Linked DNA regions of Homo sapiens. The protein of the gene in region 2 purifies or fractionates together with the protein of the main gene of each other region. This does not show direct contact. Each region holds a gene or a part of one and is shown on either strand. Other genes may lie near its edges.

Region 1 (7,270 bases), on a different chromosome or scaffold from region 2:
AGAATACAAAAAAAGGACAAAAACTAGAATTCACCTCTTTCTCCTATCTCATTAACCAGATATAAACATTGTCAGCTTTTGGAGGAATTTTGCTTTATTCTCTCTTTTTTTTTGGTCTATAAATTATAATGAATTTTCTTTTTAAAAATTGGTATAATGGGCCTTTATTTAGATTATTTCACCTAAAAATTATGTAATTTGCATTTTCACATATCACTAAATATACTTTAAATGCATAAGTAACTAAATTTTTAAAAACACATAAAACATAAACCATATAATCATTTAATGGGGGAGAAGACAGAAATATGTAAAACAAGAAATGAAAATGGGAAATAACAAAACGGTGTAGCTGAAAGCACTTGTAAAAGAAGTTAGACTTGTTTTAACATAAGAAAAAATTTGCAACACAAATTACCAACAAATATATGTCAAACTCCTACAAATGAATACAAGTACAAAATATGAAAAGATATCAACAGTTTACACAAAAACAAATGGTTCCTTTGAAAAGATACTCAATGTATACTGAAAAAGAAATGAGTTAGAACTCCATTGAAATGCCATTTTTGTCTATCAGCTTATTAAAGGTCAAAAAAATGGATAACGCATGCTTGGAGAATGTGTGGAACAGAAGACAGACTCATACATTGCTAAAGTGGATATAAACTGGTTTAGCCTCGGCAAATGGCAAATTAACACCATCTTTCAGAATTGCAAATATACAGACCCTTTGACCTAGCAATTCTACTTCCAGCATTTATTCAGATATGTTCTCAAATGCACAAAACTACCTATGTACACAGCACATGCATACATACTGCATACATACGCAGCACTCTTTGCAATAGCAGCCCGGGCTCAGAGAGGTTGCATAACTTGCATAACCTGGGGTCACACAGCCAGGAAGTGGCAGGACTGGGATCAACCCCAGAGTTACCATATGACAAGCCTGTGCTCTTACTTCTTCCTCCATGTTGTTTAGAATAATGCCCTCTCCACAGCAATGACTGTAACCAGCTCTGTGTGGCCCACACAGAAAATTTCTAAGGGAAACTGCTTTATCCTTGCACACAACCATGCCAACTGTGGAGTTGCTGTTGCTGAAAAGACACTTAAACATGTTTGAAAGCAACAGCCAAACAGCAGCCCCAGGGAAGACCTCTTACTAGTACTTGGCTTGGCCCATACTGGGTCATTGAGGGCCCAGTGCTCTCCTTTGCAATCATAGTCTCAAAGTCTCTGTCCCTACTAGAGGCAGGCAGAGATCCTGAAGAGTGCTCACACTGTGGTGTGACAAGGTGGGCAAGTAAATAGACAGCCCCTTTGCTGCTCCCCCAGTACAGGGCGCACAGCAGAGTGCTCATGTCCATGAATGATAAGCCGTTAAGGGAAACTAGCAGCTGGGCAATCTAATGAAGGACAGGAGACCTAGATGTGAATCCCCACCTGTCTGTTGGACCCTAGGCCAGAACTTAATCTCTCTGAGACTGGTTGGAAGTGCTGCTAACTATGTGCTAACCTCACCTGCTTTTGCAAGTATCAGAGCAGACACCTGTAAAGTCTGGCACATCACAGGGCTTCCAGTAAGTGGTGAGTGCTCTTTTAAATTGTGGATGTGTTCCAACATTGCCATTTCACCACTTGAATGTGCCTGGCTATGAACTGATTGTGTCCTCCCCAAATTCACATGTTGAAGCCTAATATAGGTTGGATATTTGTCCCTGCTCAAATCTCATGTTGAGTTGTAATCCTCAGTGCTGGAGGTGAGGCCTGGTGGGAGCTGTCTGGGTCATGGGGGTGAGTCTGTCATGGCTTGGTGCTGTCTTAGGGATAGTGACTGAGTTCTGGAGAGATATCTGCTCATTTAAAAGTGTGTGACACCTCCCCACCCCCGCCTCTTGCTCTTGTTTTCACCATGTGACATGCCTTCTCCTCCTTCACCTTCTGCCATGACTGTAAGCTTCCTGAGGCCTCTCTAGAAGCCAAGCAGATGCCAGCACCGTGCTTCCTGTAAAGCCTGCAGAACCGTGAGCCAACTAAACTTCTTTTCATTATAAATTACTCAGTCTTAGGTATTTCTTTATAGCAATGCAAAAATGGCCTAACACAAAGCCCCAGTGTGATAGTATTTGGAGGTGGAGCCTTTGAGAGATAATTAGTCCATGAGGGTGAGCTCCACCTCCTCTAGGAAGCCTGCCCTGATCCAGTAGGCCTCCTGGGGCCTGCCCTGTACCTCTGTCCACCCTTGAGCCAGCCAGGGGGACATCTTTCAGGCCTTACTGATCTGCTTTTTTCTACCTTGAGGGCATTCCTCTGATGGCAGGAAACTTTCACCAGCACTTCTGTGCCCCCAGCCACTGCACTACTCCCTCCATGCAAGACACAAGCCTGGTACTTTGAACATGGGGCAGAACACACATATGGACTGTGGAGAGGTTGTGCTGGGCTTCAGGGAGGGCTCATGCTCTGCTGTTTTTCAGAGGATGAAGCAGAGAAAGGGCCAGGGCTAAAGTCAGGATATGGGGACATGAAGCCCAGTAATGCCACTATCATAGTTGGACTCTCACTCCTGAGCAGCTGACTCTTGGCTGTATCCAGTCTACTCCTTTATTAGCTACTGCTTTGCATCCTTCCCTGCTTCCAACCCTCATTTATTCGTTCAAAAAATGCTTAGTGAACACAGTGCCAGGCACTGTGCAGCTGAGAGCAAGGGACACAGCAGTGGCCAAGTCGGGCTCATCCCTGCCTTCTCTCTCCAGCCAGAGGGAGTGGGCACTTAGCACATTTCTCCTCTCCTCATCTCCACTACAGCATGCAGCACTGGGCCAGGCACATGGGACATACAACAGGATCCATCTTCCTGACAGGAATACCATCATCTCTCAACCCAGTAAGCAGCCAGCATCCTGAAGAACGCCAAAGGATGCCTCCGTCACTTTTCCCCAAAACCAAACTTAATTTCCTACGTCATGCTTGGATGGGGATGCTTAATGACATTATCCAGAAGGATCTGCTCTGGGGCTTCAATCATGGCTGAGCAAGAAAACAAAAACTCTAATTTGCTAATTGCCTTTCCCAGGACCCTAGCAGATGTTCCTACCCGACAGGGAAATGAGGAGACATGAAGTGGCAATGCCACACTGTTTAAGGAACCTCATTAGTTTGAAAAATATGATGCACAGTCTTCAGAGGCCTGGGACCCAAAATCACAGCCACAGAGGCCTGTCTAGCTGAGCTCAATAGGCACGGGGTCTGCAAGAAGACATGACTGCTGTGGGGATTGGTAGTGACTGCGTGAAATGCCCTTCTCTCTGTGTGGCCTCTGGCTTTGGACTTGCTGGAGCCAGAGGTGGGGGCAAGTCTCCTTCTTTCATCTAGCCAGCAGTAATGATGCCTGCCCTGGGGATCTCAGGCTGCTGAAAAGCATAAGACTCAACCACTTTCCCTTAGGGAGACAGCCTACACCAAAGGGGTCAGACTCCACGAGAGATCTGAATAATGACAAAGACTGTAAAAAGAAATCCAGTTAGATACCACTGGAATTCCTTTATAGACTGCATATTACTTTCAAATATATACTACTGCACTTGTAAAAGTACACAGTTGATCTAATCACGCTCCTGCTCAAAATCCTCGACAGGTTCTCTGAGGCTTTCAGGATATTAGATATTAGTGCCTCTGGGGAGCTCCCCAGCCCCCTGTGCTCTCAGAGCCCTTGTACTTGTGCCCACCACAGCTCTTATCACAAGGGGACATGATGTCTCTTTGGCTGCCTCCCTCCCATCGGACTGGGGCAACTTGGGAGCAGGGGCCGGGTGTCCCTCATCAGAGTCCCCATGGACCTGGCTTAGAGAAAGTGGTGGGTGAACGTCTATGGAATGCACGAGCACGAACAAATGAAGAAAAGCAATACACTGCCTTAGAAAGAACCAACACTTAAGAATGAACTGGGAATGCAGAGCACTGTGAGCTCAGACTATTTATTTCATGTCTTTATTTTTCAATTTTTGACTCTGTGCAAAGGTACCAATGATAGGTGCCTGACCTTAGTTTAACTGGAATGTTTTTAAGATTTTTCTTGTGCAAATATTAAGTAGGGAGGCTGTTTTATTAAAGATGCTCATTCAGAATGAACCCACCAACAATGAATGAACTAAAGAACCCCCAAGGTTTTGTTCATAGGCATTCATTAGCTTTTCCCTGCTATACACACATGGAGCTCAGGCTACAACTGGCTGGGCAAGCCCTTTCTTCCCCAAGAGCTCACAAAGAGAGCCATCTGTCCAGTTCCAGGTGGAATCATCTCACGCCTGTTTTCCTGGAGCGAGAATCAATGAGGCTTCCCTGAGCCTCTCCTCCTCCTGGGGTTTCCATGGGAATCCTCCCACGCGTGACTGAGCCAGGGGCCCCCAAGGTGCAAGCTGGGCTGTCAGCCAGCAAGGAGAGCAGCAAATGGGATGAAGGAGGTTTGCTAGGCTGTGACCAGGGCAGCAAGCTCTGCAAGGTCATTTGAAAGAGACATACCACTGAGACAGCAAGGCCACGTGCAGTCCGGGCCAGCCCGGTCACCACAGCTGCCCCTGAGCCCAGAGGCCTGCCCCAGGCACATGTGGAGGTTGTTTGCAGGGCAGCTGGATTCCCTGAGGCCCAGCATGTCTGGGCTGGGTCAAAGCATGAAGGGAGAAGATGGGAAGGGTACCATTTAATGAAGCCCTCTGGGGAAAACGATGATGAAAACATGATAAGGTTTGCGTCCAATCCCTCATTTACCTCCCAAGATGAACCTTCTCCACTTGGTATAACTGGTTGTCTGGAAACAGAATGCCTAAAAGAAAAGCAGAACTATTCATGCCTCTGGCTTGAGCCAGGTCATAATAGGGACCTGCTGGGATTTCTGAAGATCCCTCTGTTAAGCCTACAGTATCTCTGGGGGCATTTTTGAGATACTAAGGAGGAAAGGAGAGAGGATGAGAGGAAGAGAGGAGAAAGGGAGCAGGATCGGGGAGGGAGCTGCTCCAGCCCCAGGAATCTGTACAACTTGCACATTTCATAGAATGCAGATAACAGGTAGATGTCTCCTGAAGGTAGATAACAGGTAGAATGTCTCTGTGGCCAGTAAACCGGGCCAAGGCCCACTCACTTCTGGAGAAAGCAGAGCTCCAGTTCACCATACATGACATTTCACAACATTAAAGGTCAGATGGATGACTTTGGCACTGCTCCAGCGTCTCCCACCACACATACCAGCACATTGAAGTGTAGAGCTTACCACAGCAGCTTTCCTGCCTCCTCCTGGCTCCAATGTCTTCCTGCCTACCCCATCAATGGGGCACCCCCAAGTCCATTGCTTCAACTTCAGTTTCCGCTTTTCACTCTCTCTCTCCATGCATCTTCTCTTATGACCTGCATCTCCAGCCCCGTGCAGACACTCTCAAGCCGGGTCTCCAGTGCTGCCTTCTCTCCTCAGCACAAGACCTACCTACTAGAAGCCCCTGGTCAGCCCTGCCTGGGTGTTGTTTCAAATGACCTTGTAAGGCCAGCTGACCTCTTTCCATCATAAGCCTCCTACCATGGGCACACCCACACTCTCAGCCCTGCGGGACATCTGTGGTCCATGTGCACCTCGGAATCTGCAGGTCCTAGGCTGAGCCTGGCCTCTTCCCTCTCTCACATGCCAGGTTCCTCTGCATGTCACTGTTCCTGCCATGGATCCCGTCTCTTGGTCCCCACCACTCAACCCCGTCAGCTTTCCCCTAGTTCAGAACTTGCCTGGATTACTCCACTGGTCTCTTAGCAGGCTTCCCTGACTCCACTGTTTGCCCGCCAACCCACTCTCCATGCTGCCAACAGGTAAGTTGGACCAAGACACCCACCAATCTCTTCATTCAACCCTCCAGGCAGCTTCTCCAGAGAGAAGCTGCACCTCTTTGCTTGGCACCCAGGGGCCCTCCAGGCTGCTCTTATTTCTTCCACACTGTCTGTCATCACGGCCCACCTCAGACCAGTCATGCCAGACTCTCCTCGTCAGCACATCCTGGGACTCTTCCCATCTTCTCTGACCTGGCTGACATTCTCTCACTCCCCTGCCCCTTCTAGCAGAAGCAGAACTGGGCACCCCTCCGTGGCAGCCCCTCAGCCCACTACATCCTCTTCCCTCCGCCCCATTATGTCCTCTTGCCTACGTCCCACTGCACCCTCTGCCCTCCAACCCACTTTGTCTTCATCTTAGCTGTTGATTCCTGCTGCTATCTCTTGCACCACATCTGCATTTCTTAATGGAGCCAGTGCCCAACCAGCCTTTATCTCCAATACTCGTACACAGCCTTGTACCTGTTACCTCTGGCTGCATTAAGACGTGCTTGTCAGACTGAAGAAGGACTAGCCACTCTATACCTCCTGCATGGTTTGCATTTTTTTTTTTTTTTTGAGACGGAGTCTCGCTCTGTTGCCCAGGCTGGAGTGCAGTGGTGCCATCTCGGCTCACTGCAAGCTCTGCGTCCCAGGTTCATGCCATTCTCCTGCCTCAGCCTCCCCAGCAGCTGGGACTACAGGCGCAAGCCGCCACGCCGGGCTAATTTTTTGTATTTTTAGTAGAGACGGGGTTTCACTGTGTTAGCCAGGATAGTCTCGATCTCCTGACCTTGCGATCCCCCCGCCTCGGCCTCCCAAAGTGCTGGGATTACGGGCATGAACCACCACACGTATACATTTTAAATGGAGTAAGTTCTGAACTCAATGTGTGAAGCAAAAATCACATGCAATCAACACTGCTTAGGAAAGTTCTTCTAAAGTTCCACACAAAGTTCATGATAACTGGTTTGAGGTATACCACCTCTTTCCCAAAGGGCACACCACCCACAACTGTTTTTCCTATAGCCTCAAAACAAATCCCTATTTCTTGAACTGATCAGCAGCAAATAAATTAGTTGGCTTATGTAGGAACCATGTTTTATTAAAAACGTGTTGCTGGTTTAAAAATTTTTTATAGTTGATCTTTTCTTACCACAGATGGTCATGTTCACATAAATCAAGAGTACATACTATGTACTTATATAGTACATATATAGGCAGAGACTTCTGGTGACCTCCATCTACGGCCTGCCACTCCCCTGATTTTCATGCCCAAGACCCTTCACTCCTGTATCAACAGAGAAAAAACCTTTCTAGAGCATGGATGTGTGACAACAGGTCGGGCAGCTCAGGGGAAATTAAGTAACTCCTGTATGGTGAGTTGTACTAGGTCTTTCCCCAAAAGGGCAAGGAATTC
Region 2 (7,270 bases):
AGGCCAGGCCACTTAAGCTCCAGGAAGCCACCTCCTGTAGCCTGGGCCTTTGACCTTCCTTCTGCACTCCAATAAGCAGTATCTTAGGAGTGATCTAGGGCAGTGGCTGAGAGCGGTGGCCCTGGGCCCGGACTGTCTGGGTTGAGTCCTGAAACTGCAGGGGATGTGTGTGACCTTGAGCACAGTCTTTAACCCTCCCAAAGCCTCAGTTTTGCTTATCTGCAAAATGGGGATCATCCTGGCACCCACTTTACAGGACCTGGTAAGGATTAAATGAGATAATGGCTATGAAATACTTGGTCCAGCACCTGACACACAGTGTGATCACTCCACAAACAGTAGCTACTCTAGCTATTCCTTTTTTTTTTTTTTTTTTTTTTGAGACAATCGCACTCTGTCACCCAGGCTGGAGTGTAGTGGCATGATCTTGGCTCACTGCAACCTCCATCTCCTGGGTTCAAGCGATTCTCCTGCCTCAACCTCCCCAGTAGCTAGAATTACAGGCATGCGCCACCATGCCCGGCTAATTTTTGTTTTTGTTTTTTGGTTTTTTTTTTGTGATGGAGTCTCACTCTGTCACCCAGGCTGGAGTGCAGTGGTGCGATCTTGGCTCACTACAAGCTCCGCCTCCCGGGTTCACAACATTCTCCTGCCTCAGCCTCCCAAGTTGCCGGGACTACAGGCACCCGCCACCATACCTGGCTAATTTTTTGTATTTTTTAGTAGAGACGGGGTTTCACCGTGTTAGCCAGGATGGTCTCGATCTCCTGACCTCGTGATCCGCCCACCTCAGCCTCCCAAAGTGCTGGGATTACAGGCGTGAGCTACCACGCCTGGCCCTAATTTTTGTATTTTTAGTAGAGATGGGGTTTTGCCATGTTGGCCAGGCTGGTCTCAAACTCCTGGCCTCAGGTGATCCTCCTGCCTCAGCATCCCAAAGTGCTGGGATTACAGGCGTGAGCCACCGCACCCAGCCCACCCCAGCTGTTCTTCTCAGGCCAGTTCTTGACAGCACTCAACTCAAGCCCCGGTAGGTGGCAGGGACTCATTCTCCTGTTAGGAAAGGGCCACTGGATGGGGAAGGAAAGATGAATGGAGCAGCATGTGTGCACAACTATTCTGGTAGTGCTTCCTCTACAAAGACTAGTGTGAACATTTTCCATTTGTTGGTAGTCCCAAGAAAATGTGGCTTGTAGATATTGATGATGATGACAATGGTAGAAATAACAGTGAACACTTATGTAGCATCTCTTATGTTCCAGGTGCTATTTTGAGTGCTTTACATATATTACATCATTAAAACCTCATAACAGAGATTTCTCTAGTCAAGAAATAAGAACTGTGAGACACAATGAGTTTCTCCTTTACCTTTTCTCCTGAAAAGCTTAGAGTTGGGTGCCTGGAAAACTTCTGTCTACTCCTCTGGCTTCTTTCAAAGCTTCTGGGTTCTATGCTATCTTTAGACACCTCAGCCTGCTACATTTCATTCTGTATGCCATCCCCAGGGCTTGGGAAGTAGGAGGAGTTCACAATTTTAACACAGGTCCAAAAGGACATGATCCAGTGTAAAACTCCACAGGTCCACCCTGTCTTTCCCATCCCACATCACCCAGGAGAGGACTCCCACGGGACTCAACACACGGCCTAACCCAAAGTCACCCACCACTCCCGGGGCCATCACCATGGGAGCTGCCAATCCCAGGGCCCTTCAGAGGCTCAGCCCAGCAGCCCTCCCCATGCCCACCGCAGTCCCCAGAAGCCACCCACTGCTTTGGTTTCTTGCCCCTTTTCTGCTAATCTTGTGGTTTGTAGGGAGAAAAAGGGGCCTTTACTCACTGCTGTCGCATCATGGGGATATTGACACAGTTAGCCGCAGCCACAGCGGCAAAGGGCACCCAGCGGCCCACCAAGGGCGGCGCTTTCTGTTGGGGGAAGAGAACAGTAGGAGTTGTTCAGAAGCGCTGGAAGATGGGAGGGGAGGGGGCTGAACGACTAGAATACAAAAAAGAAAACTAGGCCTTGCTACCGCCACACATCCAGACACCCAGTCTGGGAACCCCAAACTCCCTCAAAGGCCCAAGAAGAACCAACCTGGGGACGGCCCTGGTGTATTTCTCATCACTTGGCCAGCCGGGCTCTGGCCATTCCCAACTCACCCAGCCTGGGGAACTGTCCCTGGGGGAAGGACGTTTTCCCTAGGACTCTGCTGCCCCCGCGTGGCCACCATGCTGCAGCGGCCCCAGACCATACCTTTGTCAACATGTTCATGCCCACAGCCGTGGCCACAGCAGTGGTTGTGGCTGTGAAGTAGGAAAGGGCCATCTGCCTGGGGGAGGAGAGAGATGCTTGGGAGTGGGGCCCCTGCCGGCTGAGGGCCAAACCACGGGCTTCAGGGAGAAAGTCGGCTGGCGAGGCTTCGTGCGTGAAAACCGCACAGGATCTGTCCCCAGCCTTATCTTGTGACCCTCTCCCCCTCACTCACAGTGCTCCAGCCCCCTTGGTCTTCTTTCAGTACTGTGAACATGCCAAGTTCCTCCCTGCCTCGGAGCCTCTGCACACGGCTGCTCCCTATGCGGGGAGGTGTTCCCTGGGCTCTTGGGTCATTCATCCCTCATCCTTCAGGACAGTTGAAATGTCGTCTTCACAGATGGGACTGCTCTAAGTGGCCTAACTACACAGACACCGCTCTGCTGTTCTCTGCCTTGCAACCCTGGTTTTCTGGGTGGTTTTTTTTGTTTGTTTTGAGACTGATCTTAGGCAATCTGCCTGCCTCAGCCTCCCAAAGCGCTAGGATTACAGGTGAGAACCACCGTGCCTGGCCCAACCACATGTCTTAACAATGTATCCCAGCATCTAGAACCATGCACATCCCCAGCACATAAGACACACTCAAGAAGAAATATTTAGAGAATGAATGAATAAACACATTTGGAATTGGTCTAGGAAGAAGATCCACCCCTACTCAGCTTGAGAAAATATTTCCAAACCCTGGGAAAGGGTGACTTGGTCACCTGCTCAGTGCAGGTGCTACCCAGGAAGGACTGACAGCCCAGAACCCTTTAGAAAAGCTGTTCGTGGGGAGACACGAGGACAGCCTGGGGTTCAGGTCTCCTACCTGACTGATGTGGGGGAAGCCGCATTCCTGTTGGTGTAGTTGACTAAGGCATTGAAGGACTGGTTCACCCACTGCCAGAAGATCACCGCCGGCATCGTCCTACCAGTGAGGAAGGCCAGGAGAGGCAGAGAGAAGTCAGATGGCAGGGAGTCCTGAGGGTATGCCAGTCAAAGCACATGATCTGCAGGTCCCCACACTGTTCCCATACTAGTTTTTTATTTTTATTTTTTTGAGACGGAGTCTCACTCTGTCACCCAGGCTGGAGTGCAGTGGTACGATCTCAGCTCACTGCAACCTCCGCCTCCCAGGTTCAAGCAATTCTCCTGTCTCAGCCTCCCAAGTGGCTGGGACTACAGGCACACACCACCACGCCTGGCTAATTTTTGTATTTTTAGTAGAGACGGGGTTTCACCATATTGGTCAGGCTGGTCTTGAACTCTTGACCTCAAGTAATCCACCCGCCTTGGCTTCCCAAAGTGCTGGGATTACAGACATGAGCCACCGTGCCCAGCTTGTTCCCATACTGTTTTATGCACCTGGGCTTCTGCGCAGGCTGGCCCCTCTGCCTCAAATATCTCCCCCTCCTCCTTCCATACATGGCCAACCCTGCCCTGTTGAGAGGGATCACTTCCTCCATGGAACCTTCCCGACCCTTTCCCTGCCCCTCCTGAGACAGAGTAAGTCACTCCATGCTCCTGCTCCCACAACCCCATGTTCTTCCTCCAACCTACCACTTACCAAGCTGTACTGTAACTGTTTACTTCTTGGTCTCCTCAACAAAACTGGGAGCTCCTTGACGGGAGGTTACTGAAGCCTTCACATTCCCAACACCCGGCCCAAAGCCCAGCTCAATAGCTGAACCAATCAATGCGTGGGGTGGGGGACGCAGGGGAGGAAGGAAGAGGTAGGAAGAAGAGTCACATGTCCAGCAGCTACAGAGGCAGTCTATTCTCTCCCCAACCAAGCCAAGAAAGGGACTTCCTATTGTTTTGTTTGGGTGTTACATAATTAAAATCATTGTGGAATAAGTACTTTTTAAAGAGGGAATTGGGGTAGCTTATTTGTTGAGGGTTCTACACAGGACTGCCTCAGTTAAAATCCAGGCACCCATATTTCCTGCCTGTTTAAACCTGGACAAGTTCTTCAGCTTCTCTAGAACTCTAGTTCTTCATCTATAAAATGGAAATAATAGTACCTATAGTGTAGGGTTGTTGCGAGGGTTAAATGAAGCAATACGAGCAAAGAATGTAGCATAGTGCCTGGTATCTGGTAAGTGACCAATCAAGAGAACTATTATTATTATCATAGTATGGCTCCCTGACCAGCAGATCCAGGCAGCTGTACCTCCCACGGCCCTGCCCCCAGGTCCCACCTGTAGAACTGGAGCATGAAGCCCGTGATGATCATGCCGCCAGGAAGCTGGAAAGACATGCGCCCGATGACATTCATCTTCTCCCCAGTGTCGGGGTGGAAGGCCGAGTCATACAGCTTCTTGGCATACAGCAGCTGCTCCACTTGGGTGCCTGGGGGCACAACCCCCATCCTGCCACCCAAGGACAGCAGGCAGTCACCATCCTGCCTGATCAATGTCTCCCAGTCTCCCCACTCTCACTTCTTCCAGCCCCCAGCCCTGAGATTTCTGCCTATTCCTTCACCTTCGGTTTCCACCTCCTCCCAAGAGGACCCCATCAATGTTACCCTACTACTTCCAGCCCCTTCCCCGACCCCTCACCTGCTCTTCTCCACCATCACCTTGGCCCAGTCCAGCTCCCGCTCAGATACAAAGACAGTGCGGGGGTCCGTGATGTTTAGGAAGTGCTTCACTCTCCCCAGGAAGGTGCGCTGGTCCCAACGGGGGGCATCGATGTTAAAGCCAGACAGGTCAGCCTCCATCTTGCTCACACATAAAACTGTGGACCTAAGGGACAAAGGAAGAAGATGACTGTCCCCTAAATCAAAGCCCACCACAGAGGACCTGAGCACGTCCCACTGTTGCAGACTGCCTGCTCTCACCAGCTACTGGGCATCGTCTGACTCAGCTTGGGAGGGCCCAAGTGAATGGTCATCAGATTGAGCAACTGGGCACCAACATGTGTTTCCTGAGGGCCTGCTGGTGGCCAGCTCTGTGCTTGACCATACAGCAGGAGGGACTGGAAAAGGGGACAATACAGTGCCTGTGCTTGGAGAGCTCTGGGAACAAAAGCCCACCCATTAAATAGTATAATACCCCCAGGTGTTTCTGGCAGGGGAGATGGGAAAAGTAGCCATTTTGAAAAACAGCCAGCTGGGTGCAGTGGCTCATGCCTGTAATCCCAGTACTTTGGGAGGCCGAGGCAGGGGGATCATGAGGTCAGGAGTTTGAGACCAGCCTGGCCAACATGGTGAAACCCCATCTCTACTAAAAATACAAAAATGAGCCGGGCGCAGTGCCAGGCACCTGTAATCCCAGCTACTCAGGAGGCTGAGGCAGAAAAATTGCTTGAACCCAGGAGGCAGAGGTTGCAGTGAGCTGAGATCACACCACTGCACTCCAGCCTGAGCCTGGGTGACAGAGCAAGACTCCATCTTGGGGGGAAAAACAAAACAAAACAAACAAACAAAAAAACACCCAAAGCCCTTTATACTTCTTTTTTTTATTTAATTTTACTTTTTTTTTGAGACAGGGTCTCATTCTCTCACCCAGGCTGGGATGCAGTGGTGTGATCATGGTTCAATGCAACTATTACCTCCCAGGTCAGCCTCCTGAGTAACTGGGACTACAGGCACATACCACCACCCTGGCTAATTTTTGTATTTTTTTGTAGAGATGGCACCTCGCTATGTTGCCCAGGCTGGTTTCAAACTCCTAGGTTCAAGCAATCCTTCTGCCTCGGCCTCCCAAAGTGCTGGGATTACAGGTGTGAGCTGCCGCATCTGGCCTGTTTTATTATTTAGAGACAGAGTCTCATTATTTTATCCAGGCTGGAGTGAATGGTAATTGACAGGCATGATTATAGCTCACTGCAACCTCGAACTCCTGGGCTCAAGCAATCCTCCAACCTCAGCCTCCCAAGTAGCTGGGACTACAGGCATGCACTATCATGCCCAGCCCTTTTATTCTTCTCAACAAGGTCTACCCTTGAGGGAAACTATTTTACCAGAGCCTAACCATCTTGGGTTGTACCAGAACTTAAGTGACTTGGGGAAAGAGAACTCCAGCCACCTCTTGCCTTCCTGCCTCACCTAAAGAGGACAAGGGGAGGCTGAGAAGCTCTTGTGAAGGTTCAGGGGCACAGGCTCCCCAGAAGACTGAGACCTCATCACAGGACTGTAGATCCTCCACTCCCTCACCTCACCACTGCACCAGCAGGGCTCCTGTATCATTACAAGGATTATAACAAAAAGAGTAACAAGTCTTAGGCCCTATTTAAGAAGTCTCTAGAGACCCATAGACAGCAAGGGAGATAAGAACAAGGACACCAGAAGAAAATTTAGCCTTTTATACCTATAGCTACAGCAAACAGTAAACATAGCCTAGATAAACAAAACCTCACCCCTCAGTTCCTCTCACAGGGTACATCATGTCCAGCTTTCAGTGAAAAATTACAAGGCATACTAAAAAGAAAAAAAAAAAAAACGCAGTTTGAAGAAACAGGCCAAGTATCAGAATCAGATTTAGATATGAGATTTTAGAATTATCAGACCAGGAATTTTAAATAACTATGGTTAAAATTAATTAATTAATTAATTACAACGATGGTTAATATTCTAAGGACTCTGAAGGGAAAAGTGGACAACAGACAAGAACAGACAAATAACATAAGCAGTGATGGAAAATCTTTTTTTTTTTGAGACGGAGTCTTGCTCTGCCACCAGGCTGGAGTACAATGGCACGATCTCGGCTCACTTCAACCTCTGCCTCCCGTGTTCAAGTGGTTCTCCTGCCTCAGCCTCCCAAGTAGCTGAGACTACAGGCGTGCACCACCATGCCCAGCTATTTTTTGTATTTTTAGTAGAGATGGGGTTTCACCATGTTAGCCAGGATGGTCTCGATCTCCTGACCTCGTGATCCGCCCACCTCGGCCTCCCAAAGTGCTGGGATTACAGGCGTGAGCCACCACGTCCAGCCGGAAACTCTTAAGAAAGAATCAAAAGGAAATGTTGGAAATCAAAAAT

The links.
Region 1: the proteins of SFXN2 (region 2) and SPSB4 purify together in Homo sapiens (affinity purification with mass spectrometry; 2 studies listed by BioGRID and IntAct, with this or other methods). This does not show direct contact.

The regions. Positions count from the first base shown.
Region 1 is NC_000003.12:141,054,124-141,061,393, reverse strand, and holds part of SPSB4 (SPRY domain-containing SOCS box protein 4), read right to left. Parts: intron 1-7,270. UniProt on the Homo sapiens protein: Substrate recognition component of a SCF-like ECS (Elongin BC-CUL2/5-SOCS-box protein) E3 ubiquitin-protein ligase complex which mediates the ubiquitination and subsequent proteasomal degradation of target proteins.
Region 2 is NC_000010.11:102,724,375-102,731,644, reverse strand, and holds part of SFXN2 (sideroflexin-2), read right to left. Parts: intron 6,710-7,270; exon of another isoform or gene 6,678-6,709; coding exon of another isoform or gene 6,649-6,677; intron 6,560-6,648; exon of another isoform or gene 6,338-6,559; intron 5,034-6,337; coding exon of another isoform or gene 5,009-5,033; coding exon 4,848-5,008; intron 4,659-4,847; coding exon 4,488-4,658; intron 3,971-4,487; exon of another isoform or gene 3,854-3,970; intron 3,215-3,853; coding exon 3,116-3,214; intron 2,327-3,115; coding exon 2,251-2,326; intron 1,923-2,250; coding exon 1,837-1,922; intron 1-1,836. UniProt on the Homo sapiens protein: Mitochondrial amino-acid transporter that mediates transport of serine into mitochondria. Involved in mitochondrial iron homeostasis by regulating heme biosynthesis.